Homo sapiens: one gene and its partners. The protein of the gene in region 1 purifies or fractionates together with the protein of each later gene. This does not show direct contact. Each region holds a gene or a part of one and is shown in the gene's direction. Other genes may lie near its edges.

The links.
Region 2: the proteins of CLN3 (region 1) and NUP205 purify together in Homo sapiens (affinity purification with mass spectrometry; 2 studies listed by BioGRID and IntAct, with this or other methods). This does not show direct contact.
Region 3: the proteins of CLN3 (region 1) and ENPP4 fractionate together in Homo sapiens (co-fractionation; one large-scale study listed by BioGRID). This does not show direct contact.
Region 4: the proteins of CLN3 (region 1) and SLC25A3 purify together in Homo sapiens (affinity purification with mass spectrometry, with the first as the bait; one large-scale study listed by BioGRID). This does not show direct contact.
Region 5: the proteins of CLN3 (region 1) and TMEM33 purify together in Homo sapiens (affinity purification with mass spectrometry, with the first as the bait; one large-scale study listed by BioGRID). This does not show direct contact.
Region 6: the proteins of CLN3 (region 1) and SFXN3 purify together in Homo sapiens (affinity purification with mass spectrometry, with the first as the bait; one large-scale study listed by BioGRID). This does not show direct contact.
Region 7: the proteins of CLN3 (region 1) and SLC25A22 purify together in Homo sapiens (affinity purification with mass spectrometry; 2 studies listed by BioGRID and IntAct, with this or other methods). This does not show direct contact.

Annotation. Positions count from the first base shown.
Region 1 is NC_000016.10:28,476,779-28,479,426, reverse strand, and holds the end of CLN3 (battenin), read left to right. Parts: intron 1-1,549; coding exon 1,550-1,690; intron 1,691-1,791; coding exon 1,792-1,911; 3' UTR 1,912-2,148; downstream 2,149-2,648.
Region 2 is NC_000007.14:135,620,417-135,623,916, forward strand, and holds part of NUP205 (nuclear pore complex protein Nup205), read left to right. Parts: intron 1-2,360; coding exon 2,361-2,509; intron 2,510-3,500. UniProt on the Homo sapiens protein: Plays a role in the nuclear pore complex (NPC) assembly and/or maintenance. May anchor NUP62 and other nucleoporins, but not NUP153 and TPR, to the NPC.
Region 3 is NC_000006.12:46,136,489-46,139,988, forward strand, and holds part of ENPP4 (bis(5'-adenosyl)-triphosphatase ENPP4 precursor), read left to right. Parts: intron 1-3,062; 5' UTR 3,063-3,095; coding exon 3,096-3,500. UniProt on the Homo sapiens protein: Hydrolyzes extracellular Ap3A into AMP and ADP, and Ap4A into AMP and ATP. Ap3A and Ap4A are diadenosine polyphosphates thought to induce proliferation of vascular smooth muscle cells.
Region 4 is NC_000012.12:98,600,186-98,603,685, forward strand, and holds part of SLC25A3 (solute carrier family 25 member 3 isoform b precursor), read left to right. Parts: intron 1-985; coding exon 986-1,096; intron 1,097-1,182; coding exon 1,183-1,343; 3' UTR 1,344-3,500. UniProt on the Homo sapiens protein: Inorganic ion transporter that transports phosphate or copper ions across the mitochondrial inner membrane into the matrix compartment. Mediates proton-coupled symport of phosphate ions necessary for mitochondrial oxidative phosphorylation of ADP to ATP.
Region 5 is NC_000004.12:41,941,929-41,945,428, forward strand, and holds part of TMEM33 (transmembrane protein 33), read left to right. Parts: intron 1-1,818; coding exon 1,819-1,886; intron 1,887-2,864; coding exon 2,865-2,998; intron 2,999-3,500. UniProt on the Homo sapiens protein: Acts as a regulator of the tubular endoplasmic reticulum (ER) network by modulating intracellular calcium homeostasis. Mechanistically, stimulates PKD2 calcium-dependent activity. Suppresses the RTN3/4-induced formation of the ER tubules.
Region 6 is NC_000010.11:101,034,234-101,037,733, forward strand, and holds part of SFXN3 (sideroflexin-3), read left to right. Parts: intron 1-458; coding exon of another isoform or gene 459-461; coding exon 462-622; intron 623-1,263; coding exon 1,264-1,434; intron 1,435-1,710; coding exon of another isoform or gene 1,711-1,769; coding exon 1,770-1,868; intron 1,869-2,252; coding exon 2,253-2,328; intron 2,329-2,433; exon of another isoform or gene 2,434-2,489; coding exon 2,490-2,575; intron 2,576-2,842; coding exon 2,843-2,970; intron 2,971-3,148; coding exon 3,149-3,198; coding exon of another isoform or gene 3,199-3,500. UniProt on the Homo sapiens protein: Mitochondrial serine transporter that mediates transport of serine into mitochondria, an important step of the one-carbon metabolism pathway.
Region 7 is NC_000011.10:792,629-795,281, reverse strand, and holds part of SLC25A22 (mitochondrial glutamate carrier 1), read left to right. Parts: exon of another isoform or gene 1-18; intron 19-112; 5' UTR 113-275; coding exon 276-295; intron 296-380; coding exon 381-506; intron 507-693; coding exon of another isoform or gene 694-768; coding exon 769-824; exon of another isoform or gene 825-829; intron 830-1,662; coding exon 1,663-1,753; intron 1,754-2,293; coding exon 2,294-2,412; intron 2,413-2,515; coding exon of another isoform or gene 2,516-2,554; coding exon 2,555-2,653. UniProt on the Homo sapiens protein: Mitochondrial glutamate/H(+) symporter. Responsible for the transport of glutamate from the cytosol into the mitochondrial matrix with the concomitant import of a proton. Plays a role in the control of glucose-stimulated insulin secretion.

The DNA of each region.
Region 1 (2,648 bases):
TTTAGTAGAGATGGGGTTTCGCCATGTTGGCCAGGCTGGTCTTGAACTCCTGACCTCAGGTGATCCACCCGCCTTGGCCTTCCAAAGTGCTGGGATTACAGGTGTGAGCCACCACACCTGGCTAGAGGTGTGTCCTTTTTAATGCTCATCTTTAAGTCTACCTCAGATTTAATGAATTAGGACCTCTAGGGTAAGCCCCGCTTGGGGCATTTGTACCTAGATCCCCAGGCAATTCTTACATATACGAAAAGTATGAACCGCCACGAGGAGGCCTACACACTGCACAAGAGGCAATGTGGCGTGGTCAGTGCTGGGAGGATGGCACCTCCTTGAGAGACTGGGGCACAGAGGTGGGACCTACACCCTGGGGTGGGGATCGAAGAGGCTTCCTGGCCAGGTGCGGTGGCTCCTGCCTATAATCCCAGCACTTTGGGAGGCTGAGGCAGGGGGGCAGCGACTGCTTGAGACCAGGAGTTCGAGCCCAGCTGAATAGGATGCCCGGCTACTCCCACCTTGTTTTACCATAGTGAACCAACGGTTTTTCCAATAGGGGCAATTTTGCTGCCCAGCGGATGTTTGGCAACGTCTGCAGGCATGCTTTGGTTGTCACAACTGAGGGATGCTATGGGCATCTAGCGGGCAGAGGCCAGGGATCCTGCTAAATGCGCTGCCATATACAGGACAGCCCTCACCATGCAGAACAACCAGCACCAAACGCCAAGAGTGCTGCAATTGAGAAATCCTGGTTTCGATGGTCCCACTTCCTTTAAGAAGCCTCCATTTTTTTTTTTTTTTTTTTTTTTTTTTTTATGAGACAGGATCTTGCTCTGTCACCCAGGCTGGAGTGCAGTGGCACAATCATAGCTTACTGCAGCCTCCACCTCCTAGGTTCAAGCAATCCTCCTGTCTCAGACTCCCGAGTAGCTGGGACTGCAGGTGCGTGCCACCATGCTCAACTAATTTTTAAATTTTTTGTAGAGACGGAGTTTTGTTATGTTGCCCAGGCTGGTCTCGAACTCCTGGCCTCAAGTGATCATCCCACCTTGGTCTCCCAATGTGCTGGTATTACCTGCATGAGCCACTGCACCAGGCTGAGGTTGAGAATTTTTTTTTTTTTTTTTTGGGATGGAGTCTCTCTCTGTTGCCCAGGCTGGAGTGCAGTGCTGCGATCTTGGCTCACTGCAGCCTCTGCCTCCCAGGTTCAAGTGATTCTCCTGCCTCAGCCTTCCAAGTAGCTGGGACTACAGAACCACTACACCCAGATAATTTTTGTATTTTTAGTTGAGATGGGGTTTTACCATGTTTAGTAGAGACCAGGCCAGGCTGGTCTCGAAATCCTGACCTCAGGTGATCTGCCCACCTCAGCCTCCCAAAGTGCTGGGATTACAGGTGTGAGCCACCACACCGGGCTGGTGTTGAGATTTTATCTAGACCTGGCAGCCCTCTCCTTCACCAGTAACTCCTAAAACCAGGGACCCCTGGAGGGGAGGCCACCTCTCCTTCCCTGCCCCGCCCTGGTCCCAGGCTTAGCCTCTCCCCCTGTTCACAGTGCCTCAACCTGGTGTTCCTGCTGGCAGACGTGTGGTTCGGCTTTCTGCCAAGCATCTACCTCGTCTTCCTGATCATTCTGTATGAGGGGCTCCTGGGAGGCGCAGCCTACGTGAACACCTTCCACAACATCGCCCTGGAGGTCAGCATTGGCCGGGCAAGGGCTGGGGGTGGCCTGTCCAGGGACACCCAGGGCAGGGATGTCTGGGACTGAAGCCTCACCCCTGCTCTCTGCCCTCCCAGACCAGTGATGAGCACCGGGAGTTTGCAATGGCGGCCACCTGCATCTCTGACACACTGGGGATCTCCCTGTCGGGGCTCCTGGCTTTGCCTCTGCATGACTTCCTCTGCCAGCTCTCCTGATACTCGGGATCCTCAGGACGCAGGTCACATTCACCTGTGGGCAGAGGGACAGGTCAGACACCCAGGCCCACCCCAGAGACCCTCCATGAACTGTGCTCCCAGCCTTCCCGGCAGGTCTGGGAGTAGGGAAGGGCTGAAGCCTTGTTTCCCTTGCAGGGGGGCCAGCCATTGTCTCCCACTTGGGGAGTTTCTTCCTGGCATCATGCCTTCTGAATAAATGCCGATTTTATCCATGGACTTCTTATATCGTTTTTGTCTCTAAAAAGAAACTTTTATTATGAAAGTAATACATGCCCACTTTCCTATATATAGACAGCATAAAGAAGGTATGTCAGCAGATTTCTCCCTTTTTTGTTTGTTTGTTTGTTTGTTTGTTTGTTTTGACAGAGTCTCACTCTGTCACCTAGGCTGGAGTGCAATGGCGTGATCTTGGCTCACTGCAACCTCCACTTCCCGGTTCAAGCAATTCTCCTGCCTCAGCCTCCCGAGTAGCTGGGATTACAGGTGGTCACTACCATGTCTGGCTAATTTTTATATTTTTAGTACAGACGACATTTTGCCATGTTGGCCAGGCTGGTCTCAAACTCATGACCTCAGGTGATCCGCCCACCTTGGCCTCCCAAAGTGCTGAGATTACAGGTGTGAGCCACTGTACCTGGCCTCTGCCATCTTTGAGGCCTTACGTATTCATTCATTCATGCATTCATTGTTTGGGACAATCTGTAAACAATCATGTT
Region 2 (3,500 bases), on another chromosome or scaffold:
CAGCTACTCAGGAGGCTGAAGCAGGAGAATCGCTTGAACCCAGGAGGCAGAGGTTTCCCAGATTGCGCCACTGCCCTCCAGCCTGGGCAACAAGAGTGAAACTCTGTCTCAAAAAGAAACACAAAAGTCTTTGTTATTCCATGATATGGATGAAACACTTATCTGCCATTTTCCTTATTCACAGGCATTTCAATTGTTTCTAAATTTTTATTACAAAAATGCTACATCAACTTTTTTTATATGCCTATATTTCTCAAAAAGGATACTGCTTAATGGTGGAATTTCCATGTGTAAAAGTATGTACTTTTATTTTAAAAAGATTCAAATGAATGACCTTCTCCAGTATAAACTCATCAATAGTATACATGTATCTTTTTGTACTAGTGAGGTTTTGTTTGGATAAATTCCAAGAAGTGGAATTTCTTGGTCAAAAGTTAGGCACATTTAAAATATTGCTAAATGCTGCTTTCTAAAAAGTTAGCATTTTTAATTGAAACTAATCTTAAGACATGAAAATGTTATTAAGTGTTCAACACATCAGTATATAATGCTTTATATACTTTATAGACATTTGATGTTCAATCAAGTTATTCAGAGTTATTCTGCCATTTGTTAAGAAGTTGTCAGAGCACCTTCTGATAATGGATTTTCTTTGGGCTCTTCACCTTTGTGAGTGTTATTTTGTATACACTGTTAAAAACCACTGTGTACGTAAGGTTGACTTGATCTCATTATCCTTATGGTGGTTGTATTTTATGCCATACATAGTACCCTATAAGGTAGTAATAGCCAAATGGTAGATTTATAGGCATGTAGCACCCACATAAATAATGCATGAGAATATTTGTAAGATGAGGAAAAATAACAGAATAGTTTAGAGAAGTTTTTTAAGCAAACATGAGCTTCTTTTAAGAAAAGAGATAGTAATGGGATTTCTCCACTCAGCACCTCCCACATTTTTCTTTTGTGTGTGTGTTTTTCTTAACATTCCATTTAGTTGAATTGGCCAAGTCACCACTTAACCACTAGGTGGGGCTCTACAATAGGCTTTTTATAAGAAGTCATCAAGATGCCAATTTAAAAACTGCTGCTATGTAGCAGTTGGAAAAAATGAGATTAGTTTCCAATACAAGTTATTGCTTTATTTAATGTACTTGTGAAATTTTTAAAGAGTCTCACATAAGAGTATGTTTGTGGGTCTTACATAAAATGTATGATCATACTGTTCCTAATCATTGTATAATGGTTGTGCTTTTATTTTTATAATAGGTGTGCTTTTATTTTTAATAAGTATTTCAACTAAAAAAAAGAATAAAAATATCTGATTTTTTTGGAGGCAAATTTTTGTCTACATTGTACCTGATCCTTTCTAGCTAAATTTTCTTTTCTTTTCTTTTGTTTTTTGAGACAGAGCTTCACTCTGTAGCCCAAGCTGGAGTACAGCGGTGCGATCTCAGCTCACTGCAACCTCCACCTCCTGGGTTCAAGTGATTCTCCTGCCTCAGCCTCCCCAGTAACTGGGATTATAGGTGTGCACCACCACGCCCCACTAATTTTTTGTATTTTTAGTAGAGACGGGGTTTCACCATGTTGGCCAGGCTGGTTTTGAACTCCTGTCCTCAAGTGATCCACCGCCTCGGCCTCCCAAAGTGCTAGGATTACAGGTGTGAGCCACCACGCCTGGCAATTTTAAAAGATCTCAATAAAAGATAAAAGATTGATTAGCGGCTGGGCACGGTGGCTCACACCTGTAATCCCAGCACTTTGGGAGGCCAAGGCAGGCAGATCACGAGGTCAGGAGATCAAGACCATCCTGGCCAACATGATGAAACCCCATCTGTACTAAAAATACAAAAATTAGCTGGGCATGGTGGCATGCACCTGTAGTCCCAGCTACTGGGGAGGCTGAGGCAGGAGAATCGCTTGAACCTGGGAGGTGGAGGCTGCAGTGAGCCAAGATCATGCCACTGCACTCCAGCCTGGAGACAGAGCCAGGCTCTGTCTCAAAAAAAAAAAGAAGGAAAAAAAAAAAGACTGATGAGCAGGATAAATACAGGACGTTGGTTCTCATGGAGTCTTGTAATTCATTTTGATCTCTTTCAGAATGATTTATCCTTTTCCAGGTACAATTATTATCTTAGTGTTATGAAACATGCATGAAATAGGTGCATTGTGTTATTAGAGTTAACCTGCTTGGACCCACCGGTCAGTGGGCCTTTGTGTACAAGCAGTGATGGAAGGATTTTTTTGTTGCGTTTTTTTTTTTTCTTCCTTAGCTCATACCTAGCATGTGAGGTATAATTACTCAGTTATTACACTGCTTTTTACTGGAGTGTTTTTTTCTGTTTTAATCCTTTTAGCCAAGAAAACCATGTGGGAAAGGCTGACAGCCCCTGAAGATGTATTTAGCAAATTACAGCGAGAAAACATAGCCATTATTGAAAGTTATGGCGCCGCCCTCATGGAAGTGGTCTGTCGAGATGCTTGTGATGGTCATGAGATTGGAAGGGTAAAGCAACTCTTATTTAGTATTATAATTGAATAAGTATTTTGACTTATTAAGGTATAAACTGATTCACGGCTGGGTGTGGTGCCTCATGCCTGTAATCTCAGTGCTTTCGAAGGCCAAGGTGGGTGGATTTCTTGAGTATAGGAGTTTGAGACTAGCCTGGGCAACATGGTGAAACCCCGTCTCTACAAAAAATACAAAAAATTAGCCAGCCATGGTGGCATGCACCTGTAGTCCCAGTTACTTGGGAGGCTGAGGTGGGAAAATTGCATGAGCCCAGGAGGCAGAGGTTGCTTGCGGTGAGCTGTGATCGAGGCACTTCACTCCAGCCTGGGCTGCAGAGTGAGACCCTGCTGCAAAAAATAAAATAAAATAAATTGATTCAACTTTTAATAATGTATGGTACATATTAAGAATCATTTTTTATAATATACTGTATTTTCTTATTTGCTATAATTTGAGACTTCTGTTTTATTTATTCATATGTTGTGTTTAATTTTGTTAGAATCTTAATTCAGAATTGCCTTTCAGAATTATCTTCTTGCTAATTTTGAGGTTGACTGGTAGAAACAACAGAAACGCTGCTTAATAAAGATCTTTGGTTAAGAGAATGCTGAATAAATTGCCTTGTACTGAATAGATCTTTGTCTGCCTAATTGCTTTGTGGAGAATTTGTATTTATATTTCTTGTACAGTATGGTGGCACACTGGTAATGATGCAGTGAGAAGATAACTTCTTCTTAATGGAAAATTATGTAGCAAAATTATGTAGCAATTAAATCATGTTTTTGAAGACCATAGGAAATAGGATTTTAAAAAATAAACTGGCATAACCTTTTAGTTACGTTTCTTTGTTTGTTTGTTTGTTTGTTTTTGAGATGGAGTCTCGCTCTGTCGCCCCGGCTAGAGTGTAGTGGCGCAATCTCGGCTCACTGCAAGCTCCGCCTCCCGAGTTCACGCCATTCTCCTGCCTCAGCCTCCCAAGTAGCTG
Region 3 (3,500 bases), on another chromosome or scaffold:
TTGTTGTAATACATTTCAGAAAGACCATGGCAATGAAGTATGGTGAATGGAAATTCAAGTTGGCAGTTATTTCTGTATTTATTTCACAGTAATTTGCATGCAAGTTGGACCTGGATATTGGAGGGGCTTCAATGTGAGACTGAGGCATTTGGGCTTTTTGTATAGGCAGGGGGGCCTTTTGAATATATTTTAAATTAAGGGAACATGAACAGAGCTGTGCCCAGAGAGACTGAGTAGGCAGCAGGTGTGAGGTAAGAAAGTGGAAGGTGGTTGAGGTAGAAAGGTGAATTAAGAGACAAAAGTGCTCTGGACAAGAGGTATTGAGGACTAAAAAATATAGCAGTAGTAGAGATGGATGAGTGGGTAGCTGTTAAAAATGCTTGTTTCAAATGCAGGTTTCTGGCCTCTACTGTGGACTGACTGAATCAGAATCTCCTAGTTATAGTGACTTGACAGCTGCACTTTTAACAAGCTCCCTTCAGTGATTCTTTTGTCTGATATGCTGTATTAGATGATACGAAGATAGAATTGACTAGACTGGCAACTGATCATATACTCAGGGGATCTCTTTGTTACTGAGAGAATGGCGAAGCTGTTTTAAAGGGTTGGGAACTAAGGAAGGGGGAAAAGATTTGGAGGTATAGAGAATGCATTCCATCTGACACATATCAGATTGGATTTGGCAGCAGAACAGCTGTGCAGTGGGATAGGATTGGTTGGGAATATAAAATAGTTACACAGGGAAAGAGCCAGAGCAGTAAATAGTGTTTTTCAAAAATTAAGTTTATGAGTATGTTTTCCCTGTGAGAAGATACTGTGCCGCCGTATTTGCTGATTTAAAAGTCTACTCTGTGATTGGAAAGAAATATTTGGATATGGGGAACTATACCCAGAGAGAAACCAGGGAATCTACTCAATCCAAGCTTTCATGGAGACCTGCATGCCCTTGACACAAGTTCTAAAATTGTAGCAACCCACATGATACTGTCATCTGATTGAACCCAGTTAAAACTCTCTGAGGGAGGAGTTAAGTCATACATAAACACTGTGTTGAGGGCATAAAATATTGAATGAACGGGTAAGTACCATTGTCTAGATTCTTGATAGCTGAAATTGCTGTGCTATGACTAGGGCTGTGTCTGTGGAAATACCCATATGCCTCCTCTACCACTCATTAGGTTTGTTACTCTGTCTTTTGGAGAGGTGGTTTTGTTACTCTGCATTAGTTTTGGTTATTAGGGAGCACCAGGAACAAATGTTCCATGCACCACATTCAGAAGGCAACCTGTCTCCGATTAAAATAGTAGAGATTTTGTAGACCCCAAGATCCTCATAAATCAGATTCTGTGCCTTTGGTCTTCCTAATTTTAAGTCAGTTTTTCAGAGGATCACAGCCTCTGTCAGTATTTGACCACAAGTACGCAGATCCTCCAGGTGGCATGTTTGAAAGAAAGAGAGAAAGTGTTTCCAGTCTACTTGAGAGAATACACAATAAATGACTCCTGAACTTCATAATCATATTAGTTAACTTGCTGCTCTTCATACCTGGGACCTCAACATGCATACCCGTTACCATGTTCAGGGTCTTCTTAGTCTGAAATAATGCATTCACTTGTTGCATTCTAACTGCAATCCCAGATCTTTGTAACTTTCACTAAAAGTTACTCTTAACTAATCTTCATTAGTTCTTTGACTTCACCAGAACCTCTAGTTGAAAAACTTCTCTACTTCTTACTTACATCTGTCAGTTTCAGCTTAGATGCTGCAGCCCCAATTTCAGCTGCTCTTTAGTTAGCATCTTCAGCTTCCTTTGTCTTCCTTCAGTTTCTGGCAGAATCTCAAATCCAGGTAGGATCAGCTGCCTGTTTTGTTCATGCCTGTGCCAGGTTTACTGAGTTGCTAGAGAAAACCAGTCAACTGTGTCACTATGAAAATTCATGACAGCTGTCAACATTGACTCCAGTTCTACTGTTTACTCACACTTTCTCCCATCTTCCACATTAACTATTTCAGACATTCTTTCTGTTCCTCAAACCTCTGAACCTTTTACCATTCTACTCCCTGTCAATAATTGACCCTACCTCCGGCAACTCTCTTCACCTCCAGCCCTCAAATCTGTCAGCTCCCCTACCTTTGCTCCTTCTCTCCTGTTACAATGGAAGAGGCATCCTGTCCATCTGAAGTGAATCATTTTACCTCACTCACATGTCCTATTTTCTTAGAGACCAAAGAAGATAGAGAGCAAAGGCAGGGAGATTTATTAGGGAAAAGCTGTTTTTGTCATCAGTGAATTGATTTAAAGAAAGAACAAAAAATCAGAGATAGCTTTAAGCCTAGGGTATTAGTGAAAATAGTTGTTGATAGCTAAAAGGAAGTTTAAGAGGGATGTGGTAATAAAACTCATTTCAATAGCTATTGGATTTCTTCATAAGTTACTGGAGCATCCATGTCCATGTAGGCTTTGCATGTTTGTTAATCAACTTCATGTGACTATTGGGGCACATACAGACTGATGGGGGCTTTTTTCTCAATAGCATTTATTTCTTATTCCCCCTTTTTTATAGCAATATTTTCAACAAGAACTGGCAATAAACCAATATGGTAGAATTTCCACCAATTATTTCTGTGGGTTAAAGAAACTATAAAGTACAATTTATTAAACTGGAAAAATAATCATCATCTCTGGAGCCTCTGAAAGCTTGGCATTAACGTTATGTTTTACAAAAGAATCATTTTAGTGTCTGCATCTATTTTTATTAAGCCTTTCGAAGAATTTCTAATGTGGCAAATGAGCTGACAGCCTAGAAGGAGTATTGATGTGGAGTATAAAAATGGCCCATATGAAGGATAGAGTAGGGCATATATATAAATAGGAAATTGGACAAGACAATTTTTTTTCCAATTTTAGCTTTTAGTTATTTTTAAATAAATGGTATTATTTAAGTTAATATAGGTAAAGCTGGCATATAAATGTTGGTTCTCTCCTCCTGTGGGCTAAAATTCTAAAACTTAACCCAAATGAAATAGAATTACTACTTATGAGTTGTGTTTTTACATTTTAGGAACCCTGATTGCTGTCCTTCAACGTGTTCATTATGAAGTTATTAGTAATACTTTTGTTTTCTGGACTTATAACTGGTTTTAGAAGTGACTCTTCCTCTAGTTTGCCACCTAAGTTACTACTAGTATCCTTTGATGGCTTCAGAGCTGATTATCTGAAGAACTATGAATTTCCTCATCTCCAGAATTTTATCAAAGAAGGTGTTTTGGTAGAGCATGTTAAAAATGTTTTTATCACAAAAACATTTCCAAACCACTACAGTATTGTGACAGGCTTGTATGAAGAAAGCCATGGCATTGTGGCTAATTCCATGTATGATGCAGTCACAAAGAAACACTTTTCTGACTCTAATGACAAGGATCCTTTTTGGTGGAATGAGGCAGTACCTATTTGGGTGACCAATCAGCTTCAGGAAAACAGATCAAGTGCTGCTGCTATG
Region 4 (3,500 bases), on another chromosome or scaffold:
TTGGCGTTTTTTGAGAGGGAAAAATACTCCAAAGGTTATAAAGCAGTGTTTTTGTTTTTTTGGTTTCCCTGAGGCATAGTCTCGCTCTGTTGCCCAGGCTGGAGTGCAGTGGCATGATAATAGCTCACTGCAACCTCCTCCTCCTGGGTTCAAGTGATTCTTCTGCCGCAGCCTCCCAAGTAGCTGGGACGGGCATGCACCGCCATGCCCGGCTGATTTTTGTTTTTGTTTTTTGTTTTTTTTTGAGATGGAGTTTTACCCTTGTTGCCCAGGCTGGAGTGCAGTGGTGCAATCTTGGCTCACTGCAGCCTCCGCCTCCTGGGTTCAAGCGATTCTCCTGTCTCAGCCTCCTGAGTAGCTGGGATTGCAGGCGTCTGCCACTACGCCCGGCTAATTTTTAGTATTTTTAGTAGAGACGGTTTCACTATGTTGGCCAGGCTGGTCTCAAACTCCTGGCCCCAGGTGATCTGCCTGCCTTGGCCTCCCAAAGTGCTGGGATTACAGGCGTGAGCCACCGCGCCTGGCCTGATTTTTGTAAAGATGGGGTTTCACCATGTTGATGAGTCTGGTCTCAAACTCCTGACCTCAGGTGATGTGCCTGGCCTATAAAGCAGTTTTATCTTCCCATAACATTTTATATGCTTTTTAGGATTCATAAATACTTGCTAACTAGTTCCTAAAAGGGCTGTTTCATGGGATGTCATTATTAGGCTTGGGAATGTATTGATCTTACTGTTGCACCATTTTTTTGTTGTTGTTTATTAAGAATTTTATACAGAAAGTGTTGAATAAAATCTGAAAAACTTTAAAAGATTGTTCCGTTTTACATAGGATAGACAGCTTGATAACTGTACCCGTGTCACCCTGAGTCTGATTTTTATTTTAGAACTAGAAAAATATTATTTTAAAATCATAAAAATGATTATTGGCTCTGTGAAGTTTTGTTTTTAACTGGCACTGTATGGGATCCTTTATCTTTTTTCAGCTGGAGTCTTTTGTGCAATTGTTTCTCACCCTGCTGATTCTGTGGTATCTGTGTTGAATAAAGAAAAAGGTAGCAGTGCTTCTCTGGTCCTCAAGAGACTTGGATTTAAAGGTAGGATGATGTTTTTTTCTTGAAAGAAAGAACAACAGTTTTGGATATGTTGCATTTTTTTCATTTGCTTTTCCTGTTTGAACCAGGTGTATGGAAGGGACTGTTTGCCCGTATCATCATGATTGGTACCCTGACTGCACTACAGTGGTTTATCTATGACTCCGTGAAGGTCTACTTCAGACTTCCTCGCCCTCCTCCACCCGAGATGCCAGAGTCTCTGAAGAAGAAGCTTGGGTTAACTCAGTAGTTAGATCAAAGCAAATGTGGACTGAATCTGCTTGTTGATCAGTGTTGAAGAAAGTGCAAAAGGAACTTTTATATATTTGACAGTGTAGGAAATTGTCTATTCCTGATATAATTACTGTAGTACTCTTGCTTAAGGCAAGAGTTTCAGATTTACTGTTGAAATAAACCCAACTCTTCATGATTTGCCTGTGACTTATTTTTAAAACTTTTTTAAAAAAGATTTAGCTTTAAAATAGTTGGAAAGAATGAAGTATATAAGTTAAGGAAAAAATACAAAACTGACCATGACCATTGTTGGTTGAATATTCCAGTTGCTATTCAGAAATTGTCATATGTCTCAAGTTTTATCACACAAAGTTCCTGTATTTCTAGGGAAGCAGACTTTAAATTTCTAAAAACTTGATTTAATTATAGTTAAATATGTGTAGTCATTTGTGGTTATTTTGGCAAGTAAATGTCAGTGTATACTTACATTTTTGCAGCATGTACTACACCTTTTTTATGTTGGTGAGTTTGCTAATCCTTATTTGTAAGACAAGGTAAACCAAATTAGGCTGATTCTTAGAATGACAGTAAAGGACCAAAGTGATTGACAGCTGAAAACAATTTTCAGGTACACTAATTCTCTTTACACAGATCTGACTTTTTTTTTTTTTGAGACGGAGTTTCACTCTTGTTGCCCAGACGAGTGTAGTGTCGCGATCTCGCCTCACGGCAACCTCTGCCTCCCAGGTTCAAGCGATTGTTCTGCCTCAGCCTCCCAAGTAGCTGGGATTTCAGGCATGTGCCACCACGCCCAGCTAATTTTGTATTTTTAGTAGAGACGGGGTTTCCCTGTGTTGGTCAGGCTGGTCTCGAACTTCCAACCTCAGGTGATCCGCCCGCCTCAGCCTCCCAAACTGCTGGGATTATAGGCATGAGCCACCGTGCCCGGCTCTGACTTTTTACAGAAAATTGAACTATTTTCAGTCTGGTATTTTAAGAAAGGTACTGCTTGACAGCTGAACTATATGAATGCCACTGGGGAAAAAGCATTCCATCATACTTAGATACGAGATTGGATTGTAGGTTTAAGCCCATTTTTAAAGAGCTCCTAGAAAGTGAATTAGTTTTTGTGTTTAGATTCCCCTTAAGTTTGATTAGGAAGTGTATAAAAGTTCAATCTTTTGTAATGACAGCCCACCACTGGAAAAAAAACGAAAAACCTAGTGTAATATATAACATGCTGTTTTTCAAACACTAGATTTTACCTAGAGTCCTTATGTGTAATACGTGGGTTGGTTAACAGTCCCTACGTAAAGCGTACAGATGGCCTGGAGAGAAAAACTTTTTCAGAGATTGGAGAGAAATGTTACTACAAACTCATGGTAAGGTCAGTGAACTCAATTTAGAAGCCAGTGCAGCTAGTTGCATGTTAACTTCTTTATATCATCATTGCCTGAACTTGTTAAAGGTTCCAACATTTTACCTGTGCTGCAGGAAAAAAGGAAAAGTTGTAGGTACAAATTTGGACCAAACTTTAAAAAGGTAAAGTAGGATGTCTTCTGAACCCAACCAAGTGGTGGCTGTGGTGCTTAGCAGTATCAACTGTATATTATTTCTTGCTATGTTAGCAAAGCATCCAAAGATCAATGGTGTATGATAAGCTTTTCTGTGGGTGAAGAACTCGGGAGTATCAGACTCTTCTGGTTCTGAGTCTCATGAAGCTTTTCACTTCTGAGCTGAAAGGATGCTCTTTGTGCTTTTCACTATTAGTGGTATAGTCTTTCCCGAAAATCTCTAGCATGGTGGCTTCAGGGCAGCTGGACTTAGGTGGTATTTTGGGGCTCCAGGAGAGCTTGGCAGAGTTGGCTTTTTAGGACTTATCCTTCAATGTCACATAACATCACTTTTACCATGCTCTTGGTTACAACAGTGATGTCTCAGAAACCAAGTCCCAGATTGAGGAAAAAAGGAACATAGTCTCTACCTCTTCCTGAGAGGAAAGTCAGTCAACGTGTAAGAGGAGCAGTAGAAACGCATTAGTCCAGCCAACGTGAAAGTGGACCGTAGATCTAAAACATTTTGGGTATGCAGTTCAGCCAGCCCTTACTGAGGCAGTTCTGCCAATCAGGATTCAAGTTTTATTTCCTAAGAGTTATAATAGGTTTTATTTGTG
Region 5 (3,500 bases), on another chromosome or scaffold:
CTTACCAAGGATTTGTGAACTATAGAATGTTAGACATAAAAGACTCATTGGCAGTTTCTAGCTTTGATCTCTGCATACTCATTTGCCAGAGCATGAAACTTGACCTAGGAAAATTAGGTTAGTGACAGAGTCAGGAGTGGAACTCAGGTATCTTGACTCCCAATTCAGGGCTCTATTTTCACTACCTGACACTGCCCCTTTTATTGAATTCAGTCTGGATATGTGTCAAAGTTTAAATTGAATTCTTTAAGGATCGACAGAGTTTTATAGTGACTTTTGGAGAGGGTTGTAGCTTCCATCAGTTTCAAAGTAGTCTATGATTCATTAAAAAATTTAAAACTTTTTATATACATATATGATCTCTACTTAGGAAATGGACATTTTTCTTAATTCTTGTTAGAGGTGGGAATGAGTTGGTCAGGATATTAATTTGGAGAACTATATTAGGGAGTTAGGGTTCTTCTAATACTTGGATATAGGTTGGTGTCTTGCTTGTCAATTGGAAACTGGGACCCTTGAATTCCTAAATGAGTTATGGTTATAATGAATTTGATACTCAGATTATGTTACAGCAATCACTATTTCCTGTCATATTAGGCCTTCAGTTAGTATAGAAAAATACAATGGTTCATTTCTTAGGAACTGGTAATATTTTTAGGACAAGTATTTTTGCCATTTGTGATTGACTAACAGTCTATATCATTTTGTGGAACTACTTGACAATTTTTTTTTTTTAATCAACCTGGCAGAAATTGGGGTGGAGAATGGGGTCTTTTGAACAATTTCCATTTTTCAAAAAGTTGAATGAAAAATGTATGTTTATCCATGGCATAAAGCCAAACAGTTGGACTCAAAAGGATTCTTTCCTTATGTCTGTAATTAAGCTGATGAGAGTTTCAATTGACTATATACAAAGCAAAATACATACTGCCTTGTTAATTTTTACAAATTGAGAGCATAACTGTGACAACTTGTTAGGTATAGTATCTCAAAATAATGGAGTCCTTGTAGGAAAGAAGTAATAAAAGATCTTTAGTCTTTGGGACTAAAAATTTGGGAATTACTCTTTAAACTGTTACCTTAGACTCTTTCCTCAGCGTTTGAGATTGTGAAAGCACTGTAAAACTACTGTGTTTGAAGGCTAAGTTAGAGTGACCAAGAAAGCCGTTGTAGGGTTAGAAGCTATACTTACAACCCTTTGGGGTGGCCTAGATTTCAGTTTAATTTAGCAAGTGTTTACATTGTTACCCAGTAGAAATGAAGGAAAAACCTTTTTTTCACTATTAATTTTTGTCATGAAAAGAACTGTGAATTGGCCGGGCGCAGTGACTCACACCTGTAATCCCAGCACTTTGGGAGGCCGAGGTGGGCATATCACCTGTGGTAAGGAGTTCGAGACCAGCCTGGCCAACATGGTGAAAACCCATCTCTACTAAAAATACAAAAATTAGCTGGGCGTGGTGGCAGGCGCCTATAATCCCAGCTACTCGGGAGGCTGAGGCAGGAGAATCACTTGAACCCAGGAGGTGGAGGTTGCAGTGAGCCAAGATTACGCCATTGCACTCCAGCCTGGGGGAGAAGAGTGAGACTTTGTCTCAAAAAAAAAAAAGAACTGTGAATTTTAGAAAATGAAATAGTTTACTTTCTTCTTTATAGTGAACAAAATTTGATTTGGCTTAAAGTGTATCAGTAAAACAAGCCATTCCACTGAACTCATTTTAGCAGATGTTTCACATCTGTATATTTGGACATAATACATAGTCTGTTTTGCAGAATACTTGATGACTTTTAAATGTTTTCCTTAATTGTTTTCTTTAGTGAGTATCTTCCCAGTCTTGTTATTCTCTTTGCTTCATGCTGCCACATATACGAAAAAGGTCCTTGACGTAAGTAAAACTGCTCTTTGTCTGACTTCTGAATTACAGATCATTGACATGAATTTGAGTTCTAAGACATTTTGGTATTTGTCACAAAAAGTCCCTCTATACCTTACAAACTTGTTATGAATTATTTAGTGATTTGAAAGTTTTAAGTTTAAAAGTGTTTATTGTTGAAGTTTCACAAACTAGAACATTTTATAGATAAAGGATTGCACTTAAAATCACCCCCCAGTCTCCAGGGGAATTTTTCAAGTTTGAAATAGATCAGTTTTTTTGAAACCTGTGTCTCTAAAGTTTGTTGAGTTGTCAGATCTCTTGTTCTGTCAGTGTTTAATTCTGGCATACCTGATAAGTTGAGTGTACTGAATGAATCTCTTGTACACTAATTTTCAGAACTGCTGCTTTCCTGAAATTCTTTCTTATTGCTAGGTTGGAGCATTAAACCTAACTTGGCACCAGGCCATTTACAGCATATACTGAAATTTGAATTAAAATATCCAGGCACATTTACCAAGCACATTTACAGAAATTTGAATTAAAATAGCCAGATTTATGCTTTGTATTGGCCTTTTTCTTTATCCCTATAATTCTTTGGTCACAGCAGTAATTACACTGCTGTATAATTCTAACATTAGCTAAGAAAGGAGTCACAGATATTTTAACTGTATTACTGGATAGTCAGATTTTGTTGTGGTTAGAGAGAAATAACCACTATTTTTTGTTAAATAATCATTCTTGAGAAAAAGCAGCTAAGAATGAAAAGTACTTTTACTAAAGTTGTTTTTTATATTAAGTCTAAAAATGTAAAAAAGCAGGAAAATATACTATATTTGTCCTTAAATAGTTTGTGAACTTCGTACCATCATTTCCAAAGTAGTATATTTGGTTGTATTGCCTGTTGGATAGGCTGTTTACCTACAGAAAGAAAATATTGTTATCAGAAATGCTTCACTTATTTCTAATGTTGGTTTTCTTTTGTTTTAGGCAAGGGGCTCAAATAGTTTACCTCTGCTGAGATCTGTCTTGGACAAATTAAGTGCTAATCAACAAAATATTCTGAAATTCATTGCTTGCAATGAAATATTCCTGATGCCTGCGACAGTTTTTATGCTTTTTAGGTAAGGAAAAATTATATTTGTTTTGGGAGGCTGATGACTGAACGTAATAAAGATAGTAACTCAAGTTTTATTCTGTTTAAATCTGTTGAAGGTAGGTATTGACATGTAGAGCTAAATGAATCTTAGCAGTTGCCTAATCTAACCTTTGTCATTTATAGTAGAGAACTTGAAATATAGTAGACCTAGGAATTTGTCTTATTCCTTGTGATTTATCATTTGACATTTTAAAAATTACTTTCATAGTTACCACCTTTGAAAGAATCTTATGAAATCTAATCTAGTCCAGTCTGTCACTATTGAGATGATGTTTCTTACACTAGAGAAAAACTTTTAAAATTATGTTCTTATATTAATAGTGCCTACTATCACCTTATTTTGTTTGTATCTTAATTATAGAAGTAATACATGAATAAAGAAAGCCATCCTTTTAAAAGTATGAACATTAAAATAGTATTGACCTCTGCATTGAAATTTTTGCATTACATTTTAAAACAATACACCT
Region 6 (3,500 bases), on another chromosome or scaffold:
TCCGCAGTTAATTGTGCCCCTGGTTTATTGAGACTAGAGAATGGCAATGACTTTTACCAAGTATACTGCTTGTAAACATTTTGTTAACAAGGCACGTCCTGCACATCCCTAGATCCCTTAAACCTTGATTTTATACAACACATGTTTTTGTGAGCTCCAGATTGGGTCAAAGTGCTGGGGCAAAGTGGCTGGGGCAAAGCTACAAATTAACAACATCTCAGCAAAGCAATTGTTTAAAGTACAGGTCTTTTTCAAAATGGAGTCTCTTATGTCTTTCCTTTCTACATAGACACAGTAACAGTCTGATCTCTCTTTCTTTTCCCTACATCTAGTCACCTTGAGCTCTTGAAGGGACTGATGATAAGCTCAGGGGCCAGGGCAGGGGCACCAAAGATTTCCCCTAGCTGGAGCCCTTGGACCCTTGGACTCCCGCTCTGACCCTTATCTCTGTCCTGCAGAAAATGGGTGAATTGCCTTTAGACATCAACATCCAGGAACCTCGCTGGGACCAAAGTACTTTCCTGGGCAGAGCCCGGCACTTTTTCACTGTTACTGATCCTCGAAATCTGCTGCTGTCCGGGGCACAGCTGGAAGCTTCTCGGAACATCGTGCAGAACTACAGGTGACCACCCCTCAATCTGACCCTGTGTGCCAGGATCTCATTTTCTGTGATTAATATAATATGTTTTGTACCTGCCTCCTCAAGCTTGACAGTGACCCTGTCCCTCAATCCCCTCACTCTCTAGCCCCGTCTGTTGGCATCACAGAGCTTTAACCCAAAGGATTTTAGGGCATTTGGGTTGAGAAGATGGCATTGATATTTATGGGAGGGGCTGCTCTATGCATCACAAACCTCTACAGGGATCTATCCCATTGCGGGGTCACCCTCTGCAAGGATAGAGGTGCTCAAAGTGGAGTCCCAGGAAGATAGGAGGGAAATCCCCTTATCTTTGGGAGGAAAAACTCTTGCAATGCTTGCAGCCATTTTTGACCCACTGGAAACCACCATCATCCCTGACCCAGCATTTTGGCAGAAACAGAAGGGTACCCCTCTTTGTGTGGCTATAAGGGAAATAGAAATAGGAGCCTCCACTTCTGGGAAACTTTGGCCCTCTCCCAAAGATAAGGAGCTTCCTTATGCTGAGACTGGGGGCTGAAGTTCCTGGTTCTCTGTCCAGAGTTACCCTGAGCTGGGCAGGTGGGGCCTGTGAGGGCAGATCTGCCCCCTGGCATAGCCTGTCTGCTCCTTGCCAACTTCTGCAGGGCCGGCGTGGTGACCCCAGGGATCACCGAGGACCAGCTGTGGAGGGCCAAGTATGTGTATGACTCCGCCTTCCATCCGGACACAGGGGAGAAGGTGGTCCTGATTGGCCGCATGTCAGCCCAGGTGCCCATGAACATGACCATCACTGGCTGCATGCTCACATTCTACAGGCAGGTCTTGTCCCACGTCCCCTTCTTCAGTGCCCTAAGCTAGAGCATAGCTTGACTAGGTGCGCTTCTTGTCTGGGCCAACTGGGTGAGTGAAAGATTGTGTCAGAATCGCTTCCATTCCTCAGAATTCAGCCTCAGGAGGTCTCTCACCCCAGAGACAGTAGGTGTGTTTGTATAAATGGGGGTGGGGGTACATAGGGGTTACCAGAACAGGTTCTAGGGCCATTAACTGGGTCCCTTCTTAGGCTTGGGGAATAACCTTTGGTTTCATTACAGGGGTCTAAAGATGAGGGCCACTGTAGACGGGGCAGAAGTGAGTGTCTTTGTTCCCTCAGGAAGACCCCAACCGTGGTGTTCTGGCAGTGGGTGAATCAGTCCTTCAATGCCATTGTTAACTACTCCAACCGCAGTGGTGACACTCCCATCACTGTGAGGTGAGAGCCAGCCCCCAGCAGCAGCTGCACTGTCCCATCTGACCCTCTCCTCCCAGCCTGCAGTGCCCTCTCCTTTCTCTCCGGTTCCCTGTGGACCATGCAGCCAGTGCTCAGCGCCCTCTCCTCAGCCTGCCCCACCCCGAATTACCCTGCCTAACTGAAGGCATGAGGTCCTCTTATGTATGCTGTGGGGGACCCACCCCTCTTCACAGGGTGCTACTGGGGCTTCTAGACAAGTTTACGCCGGAGATGGAGGGAAGGCTTCTTCTGCAAGGAGCTTCCCCTTTTATGCCTCATGTATTGAGGACTTGGCATATCCCTAAAGGAAAGGGCCACCTGCTGGACTTGTCACCTCTCCCCGTGACCTGGCTTTTCCACCCACAGGCAGCTGGGGACAGCCTATGTGAGTGCCACCACTGGAGCTGTGGCCACGGCCCTGGGACTCAAATCCCTCACCAAGGTAAAGGCCCCTCACTCCCCTGACCACCCCATTCATCCTCTATCTGCCTCCTTCTTCCTCATCACACCTCCAGTTCTGACCTATATGCCCCCTATATCTCCCCAGAGTCCCTCACCACCCCATGGCCCTTAGGGCCACTGAACAACACCCTTCCTCCCCAGCACCTGCCCCCCTTGGTCGGCAGATTTGTGCCCTTTGCAGCAGTGGCAGCTGCCAACTGCATCAACATCCCCCTGATGAGGCAGAGGTGAGTGACCCCGGCTCCTGGCATGTGCATGCCCAGAATGTAGCACACTGTCCATCCACGCAGACCACCTCAGAATGGGGACATCCCTCTCCCTCCCCAGACATGAGCTGCTGGGCCCTGGCTCAGTCTGACCCTGGGATCCTCAGGTGGGAGAACCAGCCTTTGAGCCTGGGGTGTGTGAGGGGACCCTGAGGAGCCGCTGCTCATTCGGGCATTGCAGGTGGGATCCGGGGCCTGTGATCTGACCCCAACCCCCCTCCCTTGCAGAGAGCTGCAGGTGGGCATCCCGGTGGCTGATGAGGCAGGTCAGAGGCTTGGCTACTCGGTGACTGCAGCCAAGCAGGGAATCTTCCAGGTGGTGATTTCAAGAATCTGCATGGCGATTCCTGCCATGGGTAAGGCGGGAGTGGCTGGGTGGGGCATAGGAGACTCTGAGAGAAGCAGGTGCAGTTCTCAGGGACTTTGGAGGACTCTGGGGAGAGAGGGAGGAGCTTTGAGGGGGGTCACCCTTCACAGTTCCTGACTTTAACTCCACTACTAATGTTCTCCTTCTTGGCCCTGCTCTCCCCACAGCCATCCCACCACTGATCATGGACACTCTGGAGAAGAAAGACTTCCTGAAGGTAGGCGACTGTACCTCTCTTGTCCTGGAATGGGCGATGGCTGGGAGAAGTGACCAGGCCCCAACTCTCTCTCCAGCCTCGCCTGATTCTCTAAGACTTGCCAGCCCTTCTCCTGACCCCTGCACCGCCTCCTCCACCTTCGTTCATTCAGCAAGAATGAACTGGGCTGGGGTGAAGGAACTCTGCAGGGGCAGGAGGAGAGGACAAAGGAAGGAAACCAACTTCATCAGTGTTACTCCAGTGGCTTCTGACACACAGAAGGGGACTGTCATAGTCATGCTTGATCTCATGCTCATTCTTTT
Region 7 (2,653 bases), on another chromosome or scaffold:
CGGCTTCAGTCTGGGGTGGTGGGTGAGGGGCTGCGTGAGAGAGGGAGGCTGGGGGAGGATTACTCTTCGGGTGGCCCCACCCTCACTCATTCCCATTCCCTCATCCTTCTAGGACAGAAGTGGCGGTTGCTGACGCCTGGAAATTCCCCTGAAGGTGGAGCACCACCCAACCCCCCTGGGTCCCACCCTCCCTCAAGGCCTCCTCCACCTCCACCTCCACCCCGCCTGGCCTGGCGTCCACCTCTGCGGCTCCTACCTGGGTGCAATCGAGTTAAATGGCTGATAAGCAGATCAGGTCAGACTCCAGTCCTGGCTGCGTGCCTCACCCCCACCCTGACCCATGGTCAAGGAAGCCGGTCCTGACACCCCTGTCCACACAGCCTGCCAGCCAAGCTCATCAATGGCGGCATCGCCGGGCTGATCGGTGTCACCTGCGTGTTTCCCATCGACCTGGCCAAGACCAGGCTGCAGAACCAGCAGAACGGCCAGCGCGTGTACACGAGCATGTGAGTGTGCCGGGCGGTCGCGGGGAGTGGGCCCAGCATGTGGCAGCAGGAGAGGTGGGGGCTCTGCTCCTGTGCCCCCCACCCTGTTTGACAGAAGGGAAACGGGAGGCAGGCGGGCCTAGGGGAGATCCCACGTGGGTCAGGACTGGGGTCGGGGCTGGGCTGAGGACTTGGCCTCTTCTATCAGCCCTAGACAGTCCAGGGACCCTGGCCTCCGGCTGGCCCCAGCTGGCCCTGGCTCACCCTGTCCCCTTGGCCACAGGTCCGACTGCCTCATCAAGACCGTCCGCTCCGAGGGCTACTTCGGCATGTACCGGGGTGAGGTTTGGCTCGGCTGGGCTCGATATGGGCAGGCCTGGGTAGCGCCCGCGAGTCGTGGCAGGGAGCGGTGGGGGAGGCAGGGCAGGGCGGCCAGCCTGGGCCTGGTGTGTGAGCGTGGACGTGTTTGTGGGGGCTGTGCCTGTGCAGGGGGGACTGGATCTCTGGTGAGTGGTAGTTCTCAGCCTCTCCCGTGGCAGCTCCCCACCCCCACTTAGTGCCTGGTGCGTGGGATGCCATGGTACATCTGTCTCTTCTCTGGTGGCCACAGCTGCCTCTGCCTTCTGGGCCAGGCTGGACCCCGTTTGTGGCTGGGGATGGGAGGGAGTAAGGGGCATTACCGCAAAGCAGCTTAGGACACAATCCAGAGCCTAGATTTGGCAGAAGCTCTCCAGCCCTGAGCCTTCGGCACTGAGATGGGGGCTCTCCACAGCCTCCCCCGAGCTCTGGCCCAGTCCAGACCACACACTCCTGTGACCTCTGGCCCCAGCCCCCTGCCAGCACAAGCACCATCTGTCCTCCAGGGAGGGAGAGGTATCCTAGGGAGGCCTCAGGGGCTCCGGGGCAGTCCTCATGCCCTGAGCAGCAAGATGCTGCCCAGAATCAGAGACAGATGGAGCTGCAGTGGGCATGGGAGAGCCTGAGCCTGAGGTGCTGCCCCATCCCTGCCTGGCCCCGCCCCACCTGGCACACACCAGGCCCAAATGTGGGTGAGAGAACAGATGGTGGCCAGGAGTGACTGGGACAGGGTTTTGCCAGCCAGGAGGCAAGTCCTGGCCAAGCGCCTCCCCACTCAGGCCACCGAGCATGTCCCCCCAGCTGACCCCCTGCCCCACAGGAGCTGCTGTGAACTTGACCCTCGTCACCCCCGAGAAGGCCATCAAGCTGGCAGCCAACGACTTCTTCCGACATCAGCTCTCTAAGGACGGGTGAGGGTTCTGCCTGGCAGACACTCGAGGGGTCTTTGGCTTCAGATAAAGGATGGGTCCACCCTGCCAGCTGGGTCCCACCTGGGGGCTCTGCCTGTCTTCAGCCCCTTGCTTGGGGCTTCTTTGACCTCGTGGGGCACCCTCCCTCCTTTCCCCTGACCAGGGGAGCAAAGCAGATGTCAAATCAGTGGGGCTCTGGCTTGGTAGCCCTTGGCCTGAGGGCACTGACCAGCTCCCCCATCACTGGAGGGGGACTGCAAGGGCAGCCCCTTTTTGGGGCACTTGACCCCCAATTTCCCATTTTCCTTTGTCGCAGACAGCCCCACTGCCCTCCCCAGGCCCCTGCCTGTGGGGCCGTCTGTCCATCGGTCTCCTCCCTGCCTGCTGCTGCAGTGGCGGAGGCTGGGGGCTGTACCCCCACAGGCCTGCATCTGCCTCCACGGCTCCCACCATCCTCTGCGCCCAGGCATGGTGGGCAGCCCCGAGGGTGGCAGGTAGACCTGTCTCTTCCCACTTACTGCGGCCCCGCCCCTACCACAGGCAGAAGCTGACCCTGCTTAAAGAGATGCTGGCGGGCTGTGGGGCTGGCACCTGCCAGGTGATCGTGACCACGCCCATGGAGATGCTGAAGATCCAGCTGCAGGATGCAGGGCGCATTGGTGAGGGCGGGGGGAGGGGGAGGAGAGGGCAGAGGTGCGGGAAGAGGTGAGGGCGAGGGGAGGGTGGGGACGCAGGGAGGGCCAGAGCGTGTCCCCTGCCCAGTTCGCACAGAAGAGGAGACAGCAGCCTCTTTGTCCCCAGCCGCCCAGAGGAAGATCCTGGCTGCCCAGGGCCAGCTCTCGGCCCAGGGGGGTGCCCAGCCCTCAGTGGAGGCTCCAGCTGCCCCTCGGCCCACGGCCA